Linked DNA regions of Homo sapiens: region 2 is linked to region 1. Evidence: fine-mapped expression QTL. A gene starts in region 1. The other region holds a variant in brackets. All regions are shown on one strand. Distances are from middle to middle.

Region 1 (10,440 bases):
TGTCCCACACACACACCCACATATGCACCTCCAGCAGCCCCATCAGAGAGGAAGACTAGCCCAGCCCCTGGGGTTTACCCACCTTGGCCAAGGCAGCCCCGAGCATCCCCCCGAGCAGCTGTGAGACCCAGTACGGGAGGAGCATCACCAGGTTGAGGCCTCCGATCAGCATGGCTGCCAGGGACACCGCAGGGTTGAAGTGTCCACCACTGTAACCCACAAGAGCAGAGGAAGTCATGAGCCCAGGGCTGACCACATGGCTGGCACTTGAGACAGTGTGTCCCAGCCAACCCACCAGGCTGGCCTCTCAGGGCAAGAGTCAGTCCGGGGCCCAGCTCAAATACAAAGAGGCACCAAATTGCTTCCATTTTCCCTGAGATGCCAGGCAGAGGGTAAGAGATAAAGGGCAGCCTCTAAGTCCAAAGCCCAGCCCCCAGGATGGCCCTGGAGGAAGAGCGTGTAGGGAGACCATCCCTTAACTCCTCCCTGACTCCCTCCAAGCCTCCCTCCAGCCCTTCAGAGATGTGGCCACAGGTCAGATTGAGATACCAAGGCTCCAAGTTAGTAGCCCAAGAGCGGTATCCAGGCCTCCCCTTATGATTTGTTTGATTTTACGAGACGGAGTCTTGCTCTGTCGCGCGGGCTGCAGTGCAATGGTGTGATCTCGGCTCACTGCAGCTTCCACCTTTTGAGTTCAAGCAATTCTTCTGACTCAGCCTCCTAAGTAGCTGGAACTACAGGTGTGTGCCACCACGCCTGGCTTATTTTTGTATTTTTAGTAGAGACGAGGTTTCACCATGTTGGTCAGGCTGGTCTCAAACTCCTGACCTCAAGCGATCCACCCACGTCGGCCTCCCAAAGTGCTGGGGTTACAGGCACGAGCTACCGTGCCCGGCCCGGGTCTCCCTTTATGAGTAGCTAGGCCCTGAATAAGACCTCCTGATTGGTTGAACTGCTCAGCCAGTGAAAACCCTACTTGTGGTCTGAAAGTGTGATGGGTGTAAAATGCAGATTTGGAGTTCAGGCTGAAAATGGCATTGAGAATCACGGGGTGGAGTTGGAGGTTCATGACCAGGTTAGGGATTGGGATTGGGAGTTTGGGGTGTGGAAGGGAATTAGACAAGTCAGAACCTGAGGTCAAAGGGCAGGTTGCAGTTGATCAGCCACCCCCTGGCTCATGGGTAAAGAGCCTTCGTGTTCACCAAGATGTTCAACCAGCCCAGGCCCCAGAGCCAGGGTGGCTGCACTCACATCAGTGTCCCAACCAGTCCCACTCTGATGGAGGAAATATTGTCACAGTTTGGCCTCCTGAATCCATCTGGTTTCCAGGAATGGATACTCCCCAATGAGAGAGAAAGGGACCCCAAGACTCCCCATGTCACTTGAGAACCAAAGTGCCCCCCTAATGTAAAGAGCCCACCAATGAGCTTACCCATCCTCCAAAGGACATAGGACATTCAGTTGAGACTGGGCAGAGGACCTCAGCTCTGCCCAAAAGGACTTTGTCCAACACCCTGATAGCTCGAGACCAGCTACCCCAACTTGTCTGGCTCAGCTCTGGGCCCAGGCCCTCAGATAAGCTCCATGCACGGTTTGATTTGATTTGTTTTTTGTTTTTTGTTTTTTTTTTTGAGACAGGGTCTCCCTTTGTCACCCAGGCTGGAGTGCAATGGTGCAATCTCGGCTCACTGCAACCTCCGCCTCCTGGTTTCAAGCGATTCTTCTGCTTCAGCCTCCCAAGTAGATGGGATAACGGGGCTGCCACCACGCCCGGCTAATTTTTGTATTTTTGGTAGAGACGGGGTTTCACCATGTTGGCCAGGTTGGTCTCGAACTCCTGACCTCAGGTGATTCACCTGCCTCGGCCTCCCAAAGTGCTGGGATTACAGGCGTGAGCCACTGCGCCTGACCTCCATGCATGGTTTGAAAGCACCAGCCAGTGCTCAGACTCCACAGGTTGGGAAGAGGGGCAGCCAGGCCTACTTGGCCTCAAGTAGCTTAGCCTGGGCTCTGCTGAGATACACAGATGAAGTCAGGGTGAGGCGGCTTCCCAGGGGAGCCCCAAAGGGGAGAGAAACTGTCACCCAGAGCATGGCTCTATCAGGAGGGCCAGGTGACGAAAACCACACATTTCCTGGTTTACACTCATTAGCAATAAAACAATCAAGACACATTCATTCATTCATTCATTGTTCACTCAGCATATATTTCTCTGACACTTACTGTGTGCCAGGGGCTGTGCTGGGTGCTTATAACTTACATACATAGCTTATCCTGGATCCAGTGAACAACCTCAAAGTCAGTGTCTGGCACGCAATAGGTGCTGAATAAATATTTGTCAAAAAAGCCAAACAGAGAGGCAGTATTTGCAGTGCCAAAGAGATGGTCTTTCCAGCCAGCTGGCCTGGGTTCAAAGCTCAACTCTGCCACTGAAGAGCTGTGTGGCATTGGCAAAGTTACATAACCTCTCTGTGCCTCAATGATCTCTGCCTGATAAAGCTATTGCAAAGATATTAAGAATTAATATTTGTACAGCCCATAGTAGTATCTATGTAGTTAGCATTCAAAAAACATCAGCTATTATTATTACTCATATTTATACCACTGCACACAGAGGCTTCAGCAACTTGCTGTGGTCACCCTGCTAAGAAGTGATAAAGGTTGCCTTCAATCTCAGATCCGTCCAAAGGGAAGATCATGTACTTTTTGTTTCACTTGCAGCCTCCCTTGGACGTCTAAAGAGATGTGGTTTGTTTTTTGTTTGTTTGTTTGTTTGTTTGTTTTTTGGAGATGGAGTCTCACTCTGTTGCCCAGGCTGGAGTGCAGTGGCACAATCTCGGCTCACTGCAACCTCTCCCTCCCAGTTCAAGCAATTCTCCTGCCTCAGCCTCCGAAGTAGCTGGGACCACAGGTGCCTGCCCCCACGCCCAGCTAATTTTTGTATCTTTAGTAGAGACAGGGTTTCACCCTGTTGGCCAGGCTGCTCTCCAACTCCTGACCTCAGGTGATCCACCCGCCTCAGCCTCCCAAAGTGCTGGGATTACAGGCGTGAGCCACTGCACCCGGCCTAAAGAGATGTTAAAGCTCTTTTCCATTCTGGTTTTCTCAGAAATAGTATTTCTGTTTCCTCATTCAGATCTATTTTTTGAGTGAGATTTAATACAGACCAACCATGTCCCAGATCACCCTGCCAGGCACCCCACTCAAGATCTTCGTCGTGATGGCTGGCTCTCCTGGGAACCAGCAGCCATGTCCACAGACCTCCCCATTGAGCCTCTACCCAGACGAGAGCTAAGCCAGAGAAGCCTGTCCCTTTCCCTGCCCCTCCTTCTTGATCACCTCTTGACAAGCCAGGACCACTGCAGATCTCTGCATACCCAGGTGGGAAAACCTGGCTCAGGTCTTCTATGCATTTCTGCTTTCCCTAAAACCCCCTTCTAGTGGTAACAATAACACAGCAACCAATGCCTGTTGTATGTTTGGTGTGTGCCAGGCGCTCTACTTCATTTAATTCTCATGACTTCCGCATGAGGCACTTGGATTTGAGCGCTGGAGCCAGACAGCTTGTTCTTGACTCCCGCCTCTGCCACTTTCTGGCCCTCTAAGCTTGGACAGATTACATGGCCTTTCACTTTTGCAGCTGTACAATGGGGCTAATAACAGGACCTACCCCACAAGGCTTTTGTGAGGATTAAATAACTAATATCTATAAAGTAATTAGACTAGTGCCTGGTACATGGTTAGCAATATAGATATGTTGGCTTGAAAAAAAAAACATTTAAAAGCTACTATTCCCATTTTATAGGCGGGGAACTTTGGGTTTAGAGAGTAACTTGCCAGCCAGGCATGGTGTCTCATGCCTGTAATCCCAAAACTTTGGGAAGCCAAGGCAGGAGGATCGCTTGAGACCAGGAGTTCAAGACTAGCCTGGGCAACATAGTGAGACCCCATCTCTACAACAAAATTTAAAAATTAGTTGGGTGCTGCGGCGCATGCCTGTGATCCAGCTACTCAAAAAGAGAATGACTTGCTCAAAGTCACAAGCTCACAGGCTGCGGGGTCTGGAGTTGACCCCAGTCTGACTCCCAACCCCATAGTTATCCAGAGCGCTCCTTGAAATCCCGAATACGTATGCGCCCAGGGGTCCTTGACAACGCCTTTGCTTTCCACACCCAGTGCCCCAAGTCAGCATCAGGCTGAATCCTCAGAGCTGGTCTCACCTGATATTCCCCAGCGTGGCAATCACGAGCCCCAAAGCCAGCCCGTGGGCCAGGGCCGGCTGCAGCAGCCCAGTGTCCGTCCCATTCTCAATGACCGACAGGCACCCGATGAAGATGAAGAGAGCAGAGCCCAGCAGTTCGACCAGACATGGCTGCACAAACCGTTCGTACCAGGACACTCGCCACCTGCCACCCACGCTCGGCTCCCTGGCCTTGTCATTGCCAAATTCAGGCTCACACATGGCTATCTGCCGTAGGGAAAAAGGGACAGAGGACACGGGTGGGAGGCAAGTCCAGATATAGAAGGCCCCGACCCCCAACCTTGAATTAATTCACAGCCCCCCTTGCTCTGCCAGCCTGGAGAGGAAGATGCCGACAGAGGGCTCACCTCTCCAGACATCAGGATCAGATGGCACAAACATCGGACTCTTGCCTGAGCTGCTGGGAAACCTGCACCTGCTGTGCAAGATACTCTTATCTCCTAGGGACAGGACCTGCTGATCACACTATGGGCTCTGCCCCTTTTAAAGGGCTGCAGAGGCTCAATGCTGGTGCAGAGAAAGCAATAAACCTCAGGTAGGAGGCGGCTCTGAGGCCCAGAAGAGGAAATTTTTTTAAATCTCAACAGGGCAGGGTGAGGGAGTCAGGGATTGCTGAACTTTCCGCCAGTGAGGGAAAAACACGCCAGCTTGGCTGTGTCATCTGGGAGCACACTCCAGGCTGTAGAAGGTGGGAGATGGGTCCAGCACCCCAGCTCCCCACGGTCCAAAGCAGAACAGCACATGTTAGTGGGCCCCACTGGGTTGGAACCTCACATGTTAAGAAACAGCAAACAGCCAGGTGCAGTGGCTCACGCCTGTAATCCCAGCACTTTGGGAGGCCGAGGCAGGTGGATCACGAGGTCAGGAGATTGAGACCATCCTGGCTAACACGGTGAAACCCCGTCTCTACTAAAAATACAAAACTCAGCCGGGCGTGGTGGTGCACGCCTGTAATCCCAGCTACTTGGGGGGCTAAGGCAGGAAAATCATTTGAACCTGGGAGACGAAGATTGCGCAGAGCCAAGATTGTGCAACTGCACTCCAGCCTGGGCAACAGAGCAAGGCTCTGAAAAAAAAAAAAAAGGAAAGAGAAAGAAGAAAGAAAGACAGAGAAAGAAAGAAAGGAAAGAAAAGAAAGAAAGAAAGAAAGAAAGAAAGAAAGAAAGAAAGAAAGAAAGAAAGAAAGAAAAAGAAAGAAAGAAAGAAAGAAAGAAAGAAAGAAAGAAAGAAAGAAAGAAAGAAAAAGAAAGAAAAAGAAAGAAAGAAAAGAAGGAAGGAAAGAAAGAAAGAAAGAAAGAAAGAAAGAAAGAAAGAAAGAAAGAAAGAAAAAAGAAAAAGAAAGAAAAGAAGGAAGGAAGGAGAAAGAAAGAGAGGGCGTGTTGGTGTTTGCCTGTAATCCCAGCTACTCAGGAGGATGAGGCATGAGAATCACTTGAACCCAGGACCCAGAGGTTGCAGTGAGCCAAGATCGCGCCACTGCACTTCAGCCTCAGAGTGAGACCCTGTCTAAAAAAAAAAAAAAAAAAAAGAAAGAAAGAAAGAAAAAAGAAAAGAAAGAAACAGCAATCCCATTTTCAATTATTTTTCCAATGAGTCCCACAGCTTCAAACACCTGCAGTCACCGTGACAGCCTGAGCCAGGACTGAGTGTATAGATGACGATCCTTCACAGACAGAGGCAGCAGAGACTGGCAAGAGGTAATGCAATGCAGCGGCAAGACCCATGAACTTTGGAAATAGGCTGCCTGGCGTTCAATCCCAGCTCTGCTGTAAACTAGCTATGTAACCCTTGGGCACATGACTTGGCCTCTCTGGGCCTTTGTTTTCTCATCTGTTAGGTGTGGATGTTAGTGGTTTCACCATGTCATAGGGTCGTTGGGAAGTTTAAATGAGATAATACGGGTAAAGTGCTCAGGACAGTGCTAGACACACAATACCAGTGTCCACTAATTTACAATACATGCTTAGCTGTAACTAATAGCTAATAGTGAGCACTTTCTATGTGCCAGGCACTGGGGCTAAGTGCCTTCTATTATCTCATTTAAACCTCACTGCCACCCTGTGAAGCAGGTACTATTATTACAACCATTTCACAGACGAGGAAGTGGAGTGTCAGGAAGATTGAGTTTCCCAAGATTACACAGCTTATATGATCACAGAACTTGTGGGCTGTCACAAAAGGATAAATACTGTATCTGATTCCACTTGTATGAAGTACCTAGACTAGTCAAATTCATAGAGACAGAAGTAGAATGGTGGTTTCCACGGCCCGAGGGGAAGGGAGAATGAAGAGTTTGTGTTTAGCGGGTACAGATTTCCTGTTTGGGAGGAAAGTTTTGGGATGGATGATACAGTGGCACAACAATGTGAAGTACTTAATGTCACTGAAATGTACACTTAAAAATGGTTCCAAATGCTGGGTGTGCTTGGCTCACACCTGTAATCTCAGCACTTTGGGAGACCAAGGCAGGAGGATCACTTGATTTTAGGAGTTTGACACCAGTCTGGCCACATGGTGAAACCCTGTCTCTACTAAAAATACAAAAATTGGCTGGGTGTGGTGGTGCACGCCTGTAATCCCAGCTACTTGGGAAGCTGAGGCAGGAGAATCGCTTGAACCTGGGGGGCAGAGGTTGTAGTGAGCTGAGATCACACCACTACACTCCAGCCTGGGTGAGAGGATGAGACTCCATCTCAAAAAAAAAAAGGTTAAAATGGCATATTTTATTTTATGTGTATCTTGCCACAATTGAAAAAAAATACTTGTGAGCTAACCCACTACACTCTACTGCCTTTCTAAGAGAGATGGATGGATGGATGGATGGATGGATGGATGGATGGATGGATAAGTGGATGGATGGGTGGATGCATGGATGGATGGGTGGATGGATGGATGGATAGATAGATGGTTGGGTGGGTGGGTGGGTGGATGGATGGATGGATGGATGGATGGATGGATAGATGGGTGGGTGGATGGATGAATGGATGGATGGATGGATGGATGGTTGGAAAGAAGGGAAGAAAGAAAGGAAGGGAGGGAGGAAGGAAGGGAGAAAGGAAGGAGGAAGGAAAGAAAATGAGATGAGTTCCTTATTCATTCATTCACTCACCAAACATTTAAATAGCTGCTGCAAGCCAGTCACTGTTCTAAGCTGGCTGGAGATGTAGCAGTGAACAAGACAGGCAAAATCCTGCTCTGTCTCATAGCTTTATCTTTGAGTGTTTGTATGCACTGATAGAGAAGTCAAGCTAGAGCTAACGGAATTTTAATGCTCATTTCTGACATTTCTCAACTACTCACTACATCTCCAACACCATGCTAAACACTCGGTATATATTCGTAAACCCCTTTGAGATAAGTCCTATCACTTATTATCACCATCTTCAGATGATAAAAACGAGGCACAAAGAAGTTAAGAACTCACCCATGGCTGTGTACATAAAAATATCTGCTTCAGGACAGAAGTGGACATATCTAGAGAAGAGCGTGACAGTTTGTTGACAGCCCATGTCAGCGAGAGGCCCAGGAATACAGGGTCTCTGCCAAATATCTGCACCTCTAGGAAGGTTATTTTTAGCCCTGTTCTCTACCTCCTCCATATCCCACAGCACATCATACAAGATGTTTCTTAGACCCTTCCTTCCACATCCTATAAATAGCAACATAAGATAGTCTGACCCAAGGCTTCCCCATCCCCCTCATTATTTGCTCAAATCCTGCCAGTACTGCTTCCAGAATAATTCTCTCTTGTTTTCACCCATGCCTTCATCTGTTCTTGCTTAGTCCCTTGAACAAAGAAAAACTAAGCTGGATGCACTGGCTCGCACCTGTAATCCCAGCACTTTGGGAGGCCAACGCGGGCAGATCACAAGGTCAGGAGTTCAAGACCAGCCTGACCAACATGGTGAAACCCCATCTCTACCAAAAATACAAAAATTAGCTGGGCATGGTGGCACACGCCTGTAATCCCAGCTACTCAGGAGGCTGAGGCAGGAGAATCGCTTGAACCTGGAAGACGGAGGTTGCAGCGAGCCGAGATCACACCACAGCACTCCAGCCTGGGCCACAGAGCGACACTCCATCCCACCCCCCCACCCCCCAAAAAATGGATTCTTTGCTCACATAATAGTCCATGACAGGCTCGTCTCCAAATGGTGACTCAGGGATCCAGGCCACTTCCATCTTGGAGCTGCCCCATCTAGGTCCTCAGATCTTCTCCAGCAAAATGGGAAAAAGAGAATGTGGAGGGCTGTGCAGGAAATTATTATGGGCTAGGCCTAGAAATACCATATATCCCTCTCACCTATATTTGATGGGCTCAAACTCAGTCACGTGGCTTCACCTGACTGCAATCGAGCCTGGGAATTGTAGTCTAGCCCTGTGCCCAGGAGGAAAAAGAAAGGCATTTTATGAATATCGAGCAATTTCTGCCACATACTAGAAATTGTTGCTTTCCCAGAGACCATGGTTCTAGTTGAGTTTTTCCCTGAATTAAATCATTCAGTGTGTCCCATGGTTCCAAGACAAACCCAGACTCCCTTAGCTAGCCACAGAGACTTCAGTTCCTAGCCCCTGAATCATCTCTTGCCACATGAACCCTAAACAATTTATCAGATAAGCTATGTACCCTCACCCGGCCTTGTCCATGCCAGTCCCTCTGTTTGGAGTCCTTGTTTGCCCTCTTGGCCAACTTCTACTCCTCATTCAGATCTCAGATCAGATATTATGTCCTCTCTGATGCCTGGGCAAACTACCTATTGGTCCTCTAAAAACACCCTTCCCTTGCTCAAGGCAAGGTTGGATTCCATAACTCCAAAACTAGGCCAGTGCAGCGGCTCATGCCTGTAATCCCAGCACTTTGGGAGGCCAAGGCGGGTGAATCACAAGGTCAGGAGATCGAGACCATCCTGGCTAACACAGTAAAACCCCATCTCTCCTAAAAATACAAGAAATTAGCCGGGCATGGTGGCACGCGCCTGTAGTCCCAACTACTCAGGAGGCTGAGGCAGGAGAATTGCTTGAACACGGGAGGTGGAGATTGCAGTGAGCCAAGATTGCACCACTGCACTCCAGCCTTGGCAACAGAGCAAGAGTCCGTCTTAATTAAAAAAAGAAAAAAAAAAGGAAAGAAAAAGAAAACTAGTGGCTTCCAGGGAAAACCTGAATGCCATTCAGACAAAACAACATATTTCCACTACATGAGAGTTTTAGAGTATGTCCTGATGTCCTCATACACAATATACTGTCTCTCAAAACCACTGAAAAACCTAGTGGGCTAAGGAGATACTGTCTTCCTAAAAAATTCTTTGGCTGGCAAACTTCCTAGTTTTCCAAATCCAGGTCTGGTTAACAGGACCAAGGCTTCTAATCTTTATCCCTGTTTGGTTGGCAAGACTTCTCTGCATCTATACCTGTCTGCCATCCCCCACCAGGTCCAGATGGAGTGTAGAAACAGGTCACATTTTACCCTGGCATCTCACCTTTCCCTTCTCTCTTGCCTTGATGGCTGCACTGTTGTGCCAGATGTGACGCTGCTGCTGTGGCAGCCATCTTGGACCGTATATATAGGCCAGATGTAGTGGCTCACCCTTGTAATCCCACCATTTTGGGAGGCCGAGGCAGGTTCATTACCTGAGGTCAGGAGTTTGAGACCAGCCTGGCCATATAGTGAAACCCCGTCTCTATTAAAAATACAGACATTAGGCCGGGCGCGGTGGCTCACGCCTGTAATCCCAGCACTTTGGGAGGCCGAGGCGGGCGGATCACGAGGTCAGCAGATCGAGACCATCCCGGCTAAAACGGTGAAACCCCGTCTCTACTAAAAATACAAAAAATTAGCTGGGCGTAGTGGCGGGCGCCTGTAGTCCCAGCTACTTGGGAGGCTGAGGCAGGAGAATGGCATGAACCCGGGAGGCGGAGCTTGCAGTGAGCCGAGATCCCGCCACTGCACTCCAGCCTGGGTGACAGAGCGAGACTCCGTCTCAAAAAAAAAAAAAAAAAAAAAAAAAAATACAGACATTAGTGGGGCGTTGTGGCACACACCTGTAGTCCCAACTACTCAGGAGGCTGAGGCAAGAGAATCACTTGGACCTGGGAAGCAGCAATTGCAGTGAGCCAAGATCACATCATTGCACTCCAGCCTGGGCAACAGAGCAAGACTCCATCTTAAAAAAAAAAAA
Region 2 (10,024 bases), 37 kb after region 1:
ACTCGGGAGGCTGAGGCAGGAGAATCGCTTGAGCCTGGGAGGCGGAGGTTGCAGTGAGCAGAGATCGCACCATTGTACTCCAGCCTGGGCAACAAGAGCAAGACTCCATCTCAAAAAAAAAAAAAAAGAAAAAGAAAAAGAAAAGAAAAGAAAAGAAAAAAAGAACAAATATTGTTCTTTCGAAAGATTTCACGTACAGGAATATCTGAGAGATATTGCAGGTTTAGTTCCAGATCATCTCAATAAAGTGAATATCACATGAATTTTTTGGTTTCCCAGTGCATATAAATGTTATGTTTATGCTATACTGTATTCTATTACGTGTGCAATAGTATTATGTCTTTAAGATGTGCATGCCTTACTTTAAAAATACGTTATTGCTTTAAAAATGCTAATGATCATCTGAGCCTTCAGCAAGTCATCATCATTTGGCTGGTGGAGAGTCTTGCTTTGATGTTGATGGTTGCTGGTTGAGCAGGGTGGTGGTTACTGAAAGATCAGTGAATGGCTGTGCAGACAACAATGAAGTTTGCCTCATTGGTTGACTCTTCCTTTCCCGAAAGATTTCTGTGGCGAGAGAGGCTGTTTTACAGCATTTTACTCACAGTAGAACTTCTTTCAAAATTGGAGTCATTCCTTTTAAACTTTGCTGCTGCTTTATCAACTAAATTTGTGTAACATCTTAAATCCCTTATTGTCATTTCAACAATGTTCACAGCATCTTCAAGGATGTAGGAGTAGATTCTATCTCAAGAAACCACTTTCTCTGCTCATTCATAAGTAGCAATTCCTCATCCGTTGAAGTCTGATCATGAGATTGCAGCAATTCAGTCACATCTTTATGCTCCATTCCTAATTCTAGTTACCTTGCTATTTCCACCACATCTGCAATTCCTTCCTCTACTGAAGTCTTAAATGCCTCAAAATCATCCATGAGGGCTGGAATCAACTTCATCCAAACCCATTAAGGTTGATATTTCGACCTCCTCCCATGCATTACTAATTTTTTTTTTTTTTTTTTTTTTGAGACGGAGTCTAGCTCTGTGGCCCAGGCTGGAGCGCAATGGCGTGATCTCGGCTCACTGCAACCTCCGCCTCCCGGGCTCAAGCAATTCTCCTGCCTCAGCCTCCTCAATAGCTGGGATTACAGGCATGTCCCACCACACCCGGCTAATTTTTGCATTTTTAGTAGAGAAGGGGGTTTCACCATGTTGGCCAGGCTGGTCTTGAACTCCTGACCTCAAATGATTTGCCCATCTCGGCCTCCCAAAGTGCTGGGGTTACAGGCATGAGCCACCGTGCTCGGCTACTAATGTTCTTAATGGCATCTAGAATGGTGAATCCTTTTCAGAAGGTTTCCAATGTACTTTACCCAGATCCATCAGAGAAATCACTACCTATGGTGGCTACAGCCTTACAAAATGTATTTCATTATTATTTTTTTTTTTTTTGAGATGGAGTCTCACTCTGTCGCCCAGGCTGGAGTGCAGTGGCGTGATCTTGGCTCACTGCAACCTCTGCCTCCCAAGTTCAAGCGATTCTCCTGCCTCAGCCTCCCAAGTAGCTGGGACTACTGCCGCCCGCCACTGCGCCGGGTTAATTTATGTATTTTTAGTAGAGACGGGGTTTCACCATATTGGCCAGGCTGGTCTGGAACTCTTGACCTTGTGATCCACCCACCTCGGCCTCCCAAAGTGCTGGGATTACAAGCGTGAGCCACTGCACCTGGCCTTACAAAATACATTTCTAAATAGTAAGACTTGAAAGTCAAAATTACTCCTTGATCCGTGGGGCTGCAGAATGAATGTTGTGTCAGCATGCATGAAAACAGCATTCATCGCCTTGCACATCTCTGTCAGAGTTCTTTGGTGACCAGGTGCACTGTCAATAAGCAATAATATTTTGAAAGTAATTTTTTTTCTCAGTAGTAGGTGTCAACAATGGCCTTAAAATACTCAGTAAACCACACCGTAATCAGATGTGCTGTCACCTGGGCTTTGTTGTTCCATTTCTATAGCACACAGATTTGGCACCTTTTTTTTTTTTTTTTGAGACAGAGTCTCACTCTGTCACACAAACCGGAGTGCAGTGGCACAATCTTGCTTCAGTGCAACTTCCACCTCCCAGGTTCAAGCAATCCTCGTGCCTCAGCCTCCCAAGTAGCTGGGACTACAGGCATGCACCACCACACCCAGCTAATTTTTGTATTTTTTAGTAAAGATGGGGTTTCACCATGTTGGCTCGGCTAGTTTCGAACTCCTGGCCTCAAGCAATCCGCCTGCCTTGGCATGACCCACTGCACCCAGTGGATTTAGCATAATTCTTAAGGGCCCTAGGATTTTCAGAATGGTAAATAAGCACTGACCTTAACTTAATGTCACCAGCTGCATTTCATACTAGACACTAAGAAGTCAGGCTTTCCTATGAAGTTTTGAAGCCAGGCATTGAATTCTCCTCTCTAGCTTTGGAAGTCCTAGATGGCATCCTCTTGCAAGAGAAAGCTGTTTTGCCTACATTGAAAATCTGTTGTTTAGTGTAGCCACCTTCCTTCATCAATGATCTCAGCTGGATCTTCTGGACAACTTGCTTCAGTTTCTCCATCAGCACCTGCTGCTTCACCTTGCACTTTTATGTTATGGAGACGGCTTCTTTCCTTAAACCTCAGGAACCAACCTCTGCTAGCTTCCAACTTTTCTTCTGCAGCTTCCTCTCCTCTCTCAGCCATCACATAATTGAAGAGAGTTAGGGCCCTGCTCTCGATTAGGCTTTGGCTTAAGGGAAGGTTGTGGCTGGTTTGATCTTCTATACAGACCGCTCAAACTTTCTCCATATCGGTAATAATACAGTTTCGCTTTCTTATCATTCATGTGTTCACTGGAGTAGCACTTTTTCATTTCCTCCAAGAACTTTTCCTTTGCATTCACAACTTGGCTGTTTGGCACAAGAGGTCTAGCTTTCGGCCTATTTCAGTTTTTTTTTTTTTTTTTTTTTTTTTCAGATGGAGTCTCACTCTGTCACCCAGGCTGGAGTGCAGTGGTGCCATCTTCGCTCACTGCAACCTCTGCCTCCCAGGTTCAAGCGATTCTCCTGCCTCAAACTCCCAAGTAGCTGGGACTACAGGCGCCTGCCACCACACCAGGCTAATTTTTGTACTTTTAGTAGAGATGAGGTTTCACTATGTTGGCCAGGCTGGTCTCAAACTCCTGACCTCAGGTGATCCGCCCACCTCGGCCTCCCAAAGTGCTGGGATTACAGGCATGAGCCACCACAGCCGACCCTATTTCAGCTTTTGACGTGCCTTCCTCACCAAGCTTAATCATTTCCAGCTTTGATTTAAAGTGAAAGGCATGTGACTCTTTGTGACTCTTCCTTTCACTTGAGCATGTAGAGGCCATTGTAGGGTTATTAACTGGCCTAATTTCAATATCAAATTTGGAATAGGACGGATGGGAGGATCACTTGAACCCGAGTTCAAGACCACCCCTGGCAACATAGGGAGACCCTGTCTCCACAAAAAAAGTTAAAAATAGCCAGGCTTGCTGGTGTGTGCCTGTGGTTCAGTTACTCAGGAGGCTGAGGAAGGAGGATCACTTGAGCCCAAGGAGGTTGAGGCTGCAGAGAGCTATGACTGCACTACTGCACTCCAGCCTGGGAGATGGGGCAAGACCCTTTCTGAAAACAACAACAACAAAAAGTAAACATTGTGGGGCCAGGCACGGCGGCTCACGCCTGTAATCCCAGCACTTTGGGAGGCCGAGGCAGGTGGATCACGAGGTCAGGAGATAGAGACCATCCTGCCTAACGTGGTGAAACTCCATCTCTACTAAAAACACAAAAAAAATTAGCTGGGCATGGTGGCGGGCTCCTGTAGTCCCAGCTACTTGGGAAGCTGGGGCAGGAGAATGGCGTGAATCCGGGAGGTGGAGCTTGCAGTGAGCTGAGATCGCGCCACTGCACTCCAGGCTAGGTGACAGAGCAAGACTCCGTCTCAATAAAAAAAGTAAACATTGTTTCTGCTAATGCTATACATATACCAGAGTTACCCCTTTCCTGTGGTTTTGTTTTCCAAGGTTTCCGTTACCTGAGGTCAGTTGAGGTCCAAAAATAAGTGAGTATAGCTAAGATATTTTCTTTTTTTCCAAGATGGAGTCTTGCTCTGTCATCCAGGCTGGAGTGCAGTGGCGCAATCTCGGTTCACTGCAACCTCTGCCTCCTGGGTTCAAGCAATTCTCCTGCCTTACAGATGCCTGCCACCAAGCCCGGATTTTTTTTTTTTTTTTTTTGTATTTTTAGTAGAGACAGGGTTTCACCATGTTGGCCAGGCTGGTCTTGAACTCCTGACCTTGTGATCTGCCCATCTCAGCCCCCCAAAGAGCTGGAATTACAGGCGGCGGGGCGGTGGGGGGGGGGTTTCACCATGTTGGCCAGGCTGGTCTCGAACTCCTGACTTCAGGATCCACCTGTCTTGGCCTCCCCAAGTGCTGGGATTACAGGCGTGCACCACTGCACTCGGCCAGTTAAGATATCTTCAAAGACCACATTCACATAACCTTAACATATTGCTATAGTTGTTCTTTTTTAAATTGTTGCTAGTCTTACTGCACCTAATTTATACATTTTATCACAGGTATTTATTGATAGGAACACATCCCATCAACTGGCATGCCACTAGAGGTGCAGGGCCCACACTCTAGGGGACACTGATTTAAGGATTCTGAATGGTAGAAGAGAGGCTGTTACCTCTCCAGCAGAGGAGAGCGCTGGGGACTTCTGCAGTGCCACCCTGCACATGCAGGTTCAGGCTCGCAGCGCCAGTCACATAACTTAAGAAGTCCCTGTAGACAAGGTCTACCCATCACTCAGGGAGTTCAGCAGACAGGTATGGGACAAGCCTTATGTTTCTGAAATATGAGGTCATCACTCAGGGGCCCTATGAACCTGTCTCATAACTGCATTGACTTCTAGTTGTGGCTGTAAGTTTAAGCCCCCAACTTGGTGGCTCAAAACACCACAGATCAGTCTGGGCACAGAGGCTCATGCCTGTAATCCCAGCACTTTGGGAGGCCAAGACGGGCGGATCACTTGAGGTCAGGAGTTCGTGACCAGCCTGGCCAACATGGTGAAACTCTATCTCCACTAAAAATACAAAAATTAGACAGGCATGATGGTATGCACCTGTAATCCCAGCTACTTGGGAGGCTGAGGCGGAAGAATCACTTGAACCCGGGAGGCAGAGGGTGCAGTGAGCCGAGATCGCGCCACTGCACTCCAAGCCTGGGCAACAGAGCAAGACTCCATCTAAAAAAAAGAAAAAAAAAAAAAAAAAACCACCACCACAGATGTATTCTCTTACGGCTCTGGAGGTGAGAAATCTGAAATCGATTTCTCTGGGCTAACATCAAGGTGTTGGCAGGCAGTTCCAGCTGGAGGCCAAGGGAGGGTCTGCTGCTATTGCCCTAGGTAGCATCCCCTGGTTGCCCCTGCTTCTTGTCTGGGCCCCTCTGACTCTGACGCCTCGTCTGTCCCTCTAATGAGGACCCCGTGATCCTATCAGGCCCACCTGGATAACCCAGGACCACCTCTTCATCTCAAACCCCTAATCCCATTTGCAAAGCCCCTTTGCCACAGAAGGTAACACACACTCACAGGTTCTGGGGATCAGGACATGGACACTTTAGGGGCCATTCTTCAGCCTGCCACCATGACCAAGATGAAGGAGGCAACTGAGCAGGCCAGTGTGGCCAGGGCGGAGACAGGAGCCCGAGAAGAGCACTAGCCTCACATCTGGTGGAGGACAAGGGTCAGGGAGTGAGGCACAATGTCATGTGCTGCAACAAACAGCATGTGAGGGAGTAGATCCTAAAATGGACTCAAGGTCATGGGCCGGGTGTGACTCACAGGGAGTAAGCCAAGGTCAAAGCAGACTTGGGGTCCTTGGCTTTAGCTAACACAGAGGTGAACCCTGGCCCGCCCAAGCCATGGGGCACGGAACGAGCAGCGGCAGCCAGCAGAGGTCCAACCACAGGCGACTGGTGGCAAG[T/G]GAGATTTATTTAAACAACGACATGTCAACAGGAACAGGAAGAGGAACATGTGCGACCACTGTAGTGACCAAGGCTTCTCAAGAGTGTGGGATGAGACCTGCGGACGAGGCCCGCCCACCGCTCAGGGAGCTTGCAGGTCTCCTCCAGGAGGGCAAGTGGCTTCGGCTTCTGGCTCGGCATAAGCCTTCGACAGATTAATAAGTTATCTCCTTCAGCCCTGAGGGGAGAGACACACAGACACCATTAGGAGACTCTGGTGGCCAGGAGCAGAGGCCCCTAGAGGACCCCCAGTGACCGGCTCAGGGGCACCAGCCACACTGCTGACCACTGTAGCACCGCCCTCCTGCTACATAAAATGAGGTTTCGCAAGGAAACAAAAGGTTGGGTAAGACTGTGTTTATGGGTGGTTTTAAAATGATTAAGAAAACATTATAACAGTTTATGGACTGTCTGCAGTTAACGCCAAAAATCTACCCTTTATGTGCTGAACTTTGAGCAAAGGCAGATACGGATCTTCCACACACACAGACAAGCACTGATGTCCCAAAGCAGTCACGGGTCAGTGGGGACAAAGTAAATTCCTGACATTAAAATGCTCAATATATTGTTCCTTTGTGAGAACTAGAGTTCACTTAAAAGTATTACAAATAACCTACATTTCCAAAAATATGGAAATATTAATTCAGCCATAGTGACATAATACAATATTATAAAGCCATTACAATTATGCTCATTGAGCATTTTTAATTGCCAGGGGGAAATGCTAATGTTATAACATTAAATTGAAAACACTTGAAATCAAAGTTGCATAAATATAAAAATTCAACTCTTATTATAAAAACAAACAAAACACTATTTAGAAATAGAGGGGAAGGGAAAAGTCACAAGAGGTCATCTCTGACTGACAGGCATACAGGTGGATTTTCTTAGTCATACTTTTTAGAAGCTTTTAAGTTTCCTACTAAGAAGTATTTTTTAATATAATTAAGAGGAGGATAACATACAAATACCCCAATAAGTGACTTTTTTTTTTTTCTGGAGACAGAGTCGCGCTCTGTTGCCCAGGCTGGAGTACAGTGGTGCCATCTCAGCTCACTGCAACTTCTGCCTCCCGGGTTCAAGAGATTCTCCTGCCTCAGCCTCCCAAGTAGCTGGGACTACAGGCATGTGCCACCACGCCCAGCTAAATTTTGTATTTTTAGTAGAGACGGGATTTCACCATGTTGGCCAGGCTGGTTTCGAACTCCTGACCTCAGGTGATCTGCCTGCCTTAGCCTCCCAAAGTGCTGGGATTACAGGCATGAGCCACTGCGCTCAATTCACAATAAATGACTTTAAATCCAAAAGGAATGTGAAGGCCAGGCACAATGGCTCATGCCTATAATCCCAGCACTTTGGGGGGCCGAGCCAGGCAGATCACTTAAGGTCAGGAGTTCGAGACCAGCCTGGCCAACATGGTGAAACCCCATCTCTACCAAAAATACAGAAATTAGCTGGACATGGTGGTGGACGCCTGTAATCCCAGCTACTCAGGAGGCTGAGGCAGGAGAATCACTTGAACCCAGGAGGCGGAGGTTGCAGTGAGACGAGATCATGCTACTGCACTCCAGCCTGGACAATGAGCAAGACTCCATCTCAAAAAAAAAAAAAAAAAAAAAAAAAAAAAAGCCAAAAAAAAACAAAAACCAAAACCAAACAAAACAAATGTGAAAGGATTGTGTGGGCTGAGCTGCATAGCTAGGCAAATCTGTGTGGAATGACAGGTCCAAAGGGGCTGATTATCAGTCTCATGTCAACCTGGAATTTTTGCATAGGGAATGGTCCTTGCCTCTGTCAAGTTCTGTTTCGGATCAGCTGCCCGCTTGTGACCACATGTCATGTGGATTACATCTGCGGGAAGCTTGAAGGGCAGCTATTCCACTGAAGGCCGGAACTGGGATCTAAAGTGGCCTCCATCGGGCTGGAGAGACACTCAAAGCCTAACCACTGGGGGAGGCAAGCCCAGCAGGGGGCAGCTGAAAAGGAGCTGGACCAGGACAAAGGTAACAAGAAACAGAGATAGATCCACGCCTGTTCTCCGTGGCCCTACTCGGCCACAGACAGGCATGTGCACCTTAATGAGAAGAGGGAAAATTCAGCCCCTAGCTGCATGGGTTTGTAAGCAAGATGTACTGATCTGTGCGTTTAACATCCAGTGAACCTGGTTGTAAGTGGATGGAAAAGACAAACGCCGGTTACTTTTCTAGAGATTTTTAAACTCTCAAGCTCTTTTACCTTCCAGCTGTGGGAACTCCACAGTACATCTCTCAAGGGTTGTTTTGGGCTACAAGGCTTAAACAGTTCTCTTGGTTTTTGTGCTATAAAAGCACAAAAGATATAACAGCAAGTTCTCTGGATATGCTCACGGATACATGTACATCATCCTCTAGTTCTTTCTGGGCCCAAAGTTCCAAATACATCTTTCATTTTGGGAAGAAGAAAAGTTCCGGCCAGGCACAGTGGCTCATGCCTGTAATCCCAGCACTTTGGGAAGCTGAGGCAAGAGGATTGCTTGAGGCCAGGAATTCTTTATTTATTTATTTTTTGAGACAGGGTTTCGCTCTTCTTGCCCGGGCTGGAGTGCAATGGTGCAGTCTCGGCTCACTGCAACCTCCACCTCCCAGGTACAAGTGATTCTCCTGCCTCAGCCTCCCAAGTAGCTGGGATTACAGGTGCCTGCCACCACGCCTGGCTATTTTTTTTTTTTTTGTATTTTTAGTAGAGACGGGGTTTCATCATGTTGGCCAGGCTGGTCTCAAACTCCTGACCTCAAGTGATCTGCCCACCTCAGCCTCCCAAAGTGCTGGGATTACAGGTGTGAGACCCCGCGCCCAGCCTACTTGAGGCTAGGAATTCAAGACCAGCCTTAGAGAGACCTCTACAGAAAATTAGCCAGGCTCCTGTAGTCCCAGCTACTCAGGAGGCAGGAGGATCACTTGAGCCCAGGAATTGAAGGCTGCAATGAGCTATGACCGTGCCACTGCACTCTAGCCTGGGTGACAGAGCGAGACCCTGTCTCAAAACAAGAAAGAAGGGACAGAGAGAGAAAGAGGGAAGACAAAAAACAGAAAGAGAAAGGGAAAGAATAGGAAAAAGAAAAGTTCACTATTTCCAGGTCAAGGCAAGAAAAGTACAATCACGCACCAAGCTCATTTCCTCCTTTGGTTGCCCAGCAAAGGCAGTAATGCCGCATGAGCTGCTCCAGCAGCTCCATTTCATCCAGGAATTCAAGTGATTCTATCCTGTGGAAAGAATTAAAATAGAACGATGCAAGTGTCTGCATTGAAAATGAAGATCATGGCCCATAGCTACGGATATGAAAAAATGTTTATGATAGATTAAGTGGAAAGAAGGCGGCTATAAAATAGTAATTATGGTGTGGCTCCATTTTAATGTCTTTTCACTGAAAAGAAGAAAAAATACCATAAACAAAGTCAAAATACAAATGCCAAACTAGAAACATATATTTGCAATTCAAGTGGCAAAGGGCTGAGTTCCTTATTATATAAAGAGCTGTTAAACTTCAGTAAGAAAAACTAGTGGCAACTGGAGGAGACAGGCAGAGTAAATTGAAGCAGATTCATACTGTCAAAACAGGACACTATGCAGCCATTTTTAAAAATGGGGTAGGTCCATACGTATTAATATGCAATAACCTCCAAGACATATATATCATGGAATTTAAAAAGCAAGTTGCGTAATTTAAAAAGCAAGTAATGTGCATATTACACCACTCTCTATGTAAAGAAAAAGTGAGACAAATTTGTCTGTATATGTACAGACTTTTGGAAAATACAGAAGAAACTAGAAATGGTAGTTGTCTCTTAAGAGAGAAGGTAGTAGACCAGTAGTGAGGAGGGTTGTTTTTACTCTATACTACTTCATTTTGGTTTTGTAAAAAATTATATGCATGTATGACTTTTCCCAAAAAGCCTTTTAAATGT

Evidence for each region. PIP is the estimated chance that this variant, and not a neighbour inherited with it, causes the effect. A credible set is the group of variants that fine-mapping cannot tell apart.
Region 2: its variant is the best candidate, but not a certain one, in a credible set for the expression of AQP8 in whole blood (TOPMed, PIP 0.65).

The regions. Positions count from the first base shown.
Region 1 is chr16:25,211,226-25,221,665 of GRCh38, reverse strand. AQP8 (aquaporin 8) reads right to left here and starts at 4,719. Exons shown (of 6, transcript NM_001169.3): 1 at 4,609-4,719; 2 at 4,221-4,468; 3 at 83-209. The coding sequence starts at 4,620.
Region 2 is chr16:25,174,235-25,184,258 of GRCh38, reverse strand. LCMT1 (leucine carboxyl methyltransferase 1) reads right to left here. Exons shown (of 11, transcript NM_016309.3): 10 at 9,225-9,322; 11 at 6,031-6,258. The coding sequence ends at 6,236. Among named protein-coding and RNA genes, the nearest start is that of LCMT1-AS2, 30 kb to the right of the region's middle. The variant T/G (reference allele first, on the strand shown) is at 6,041.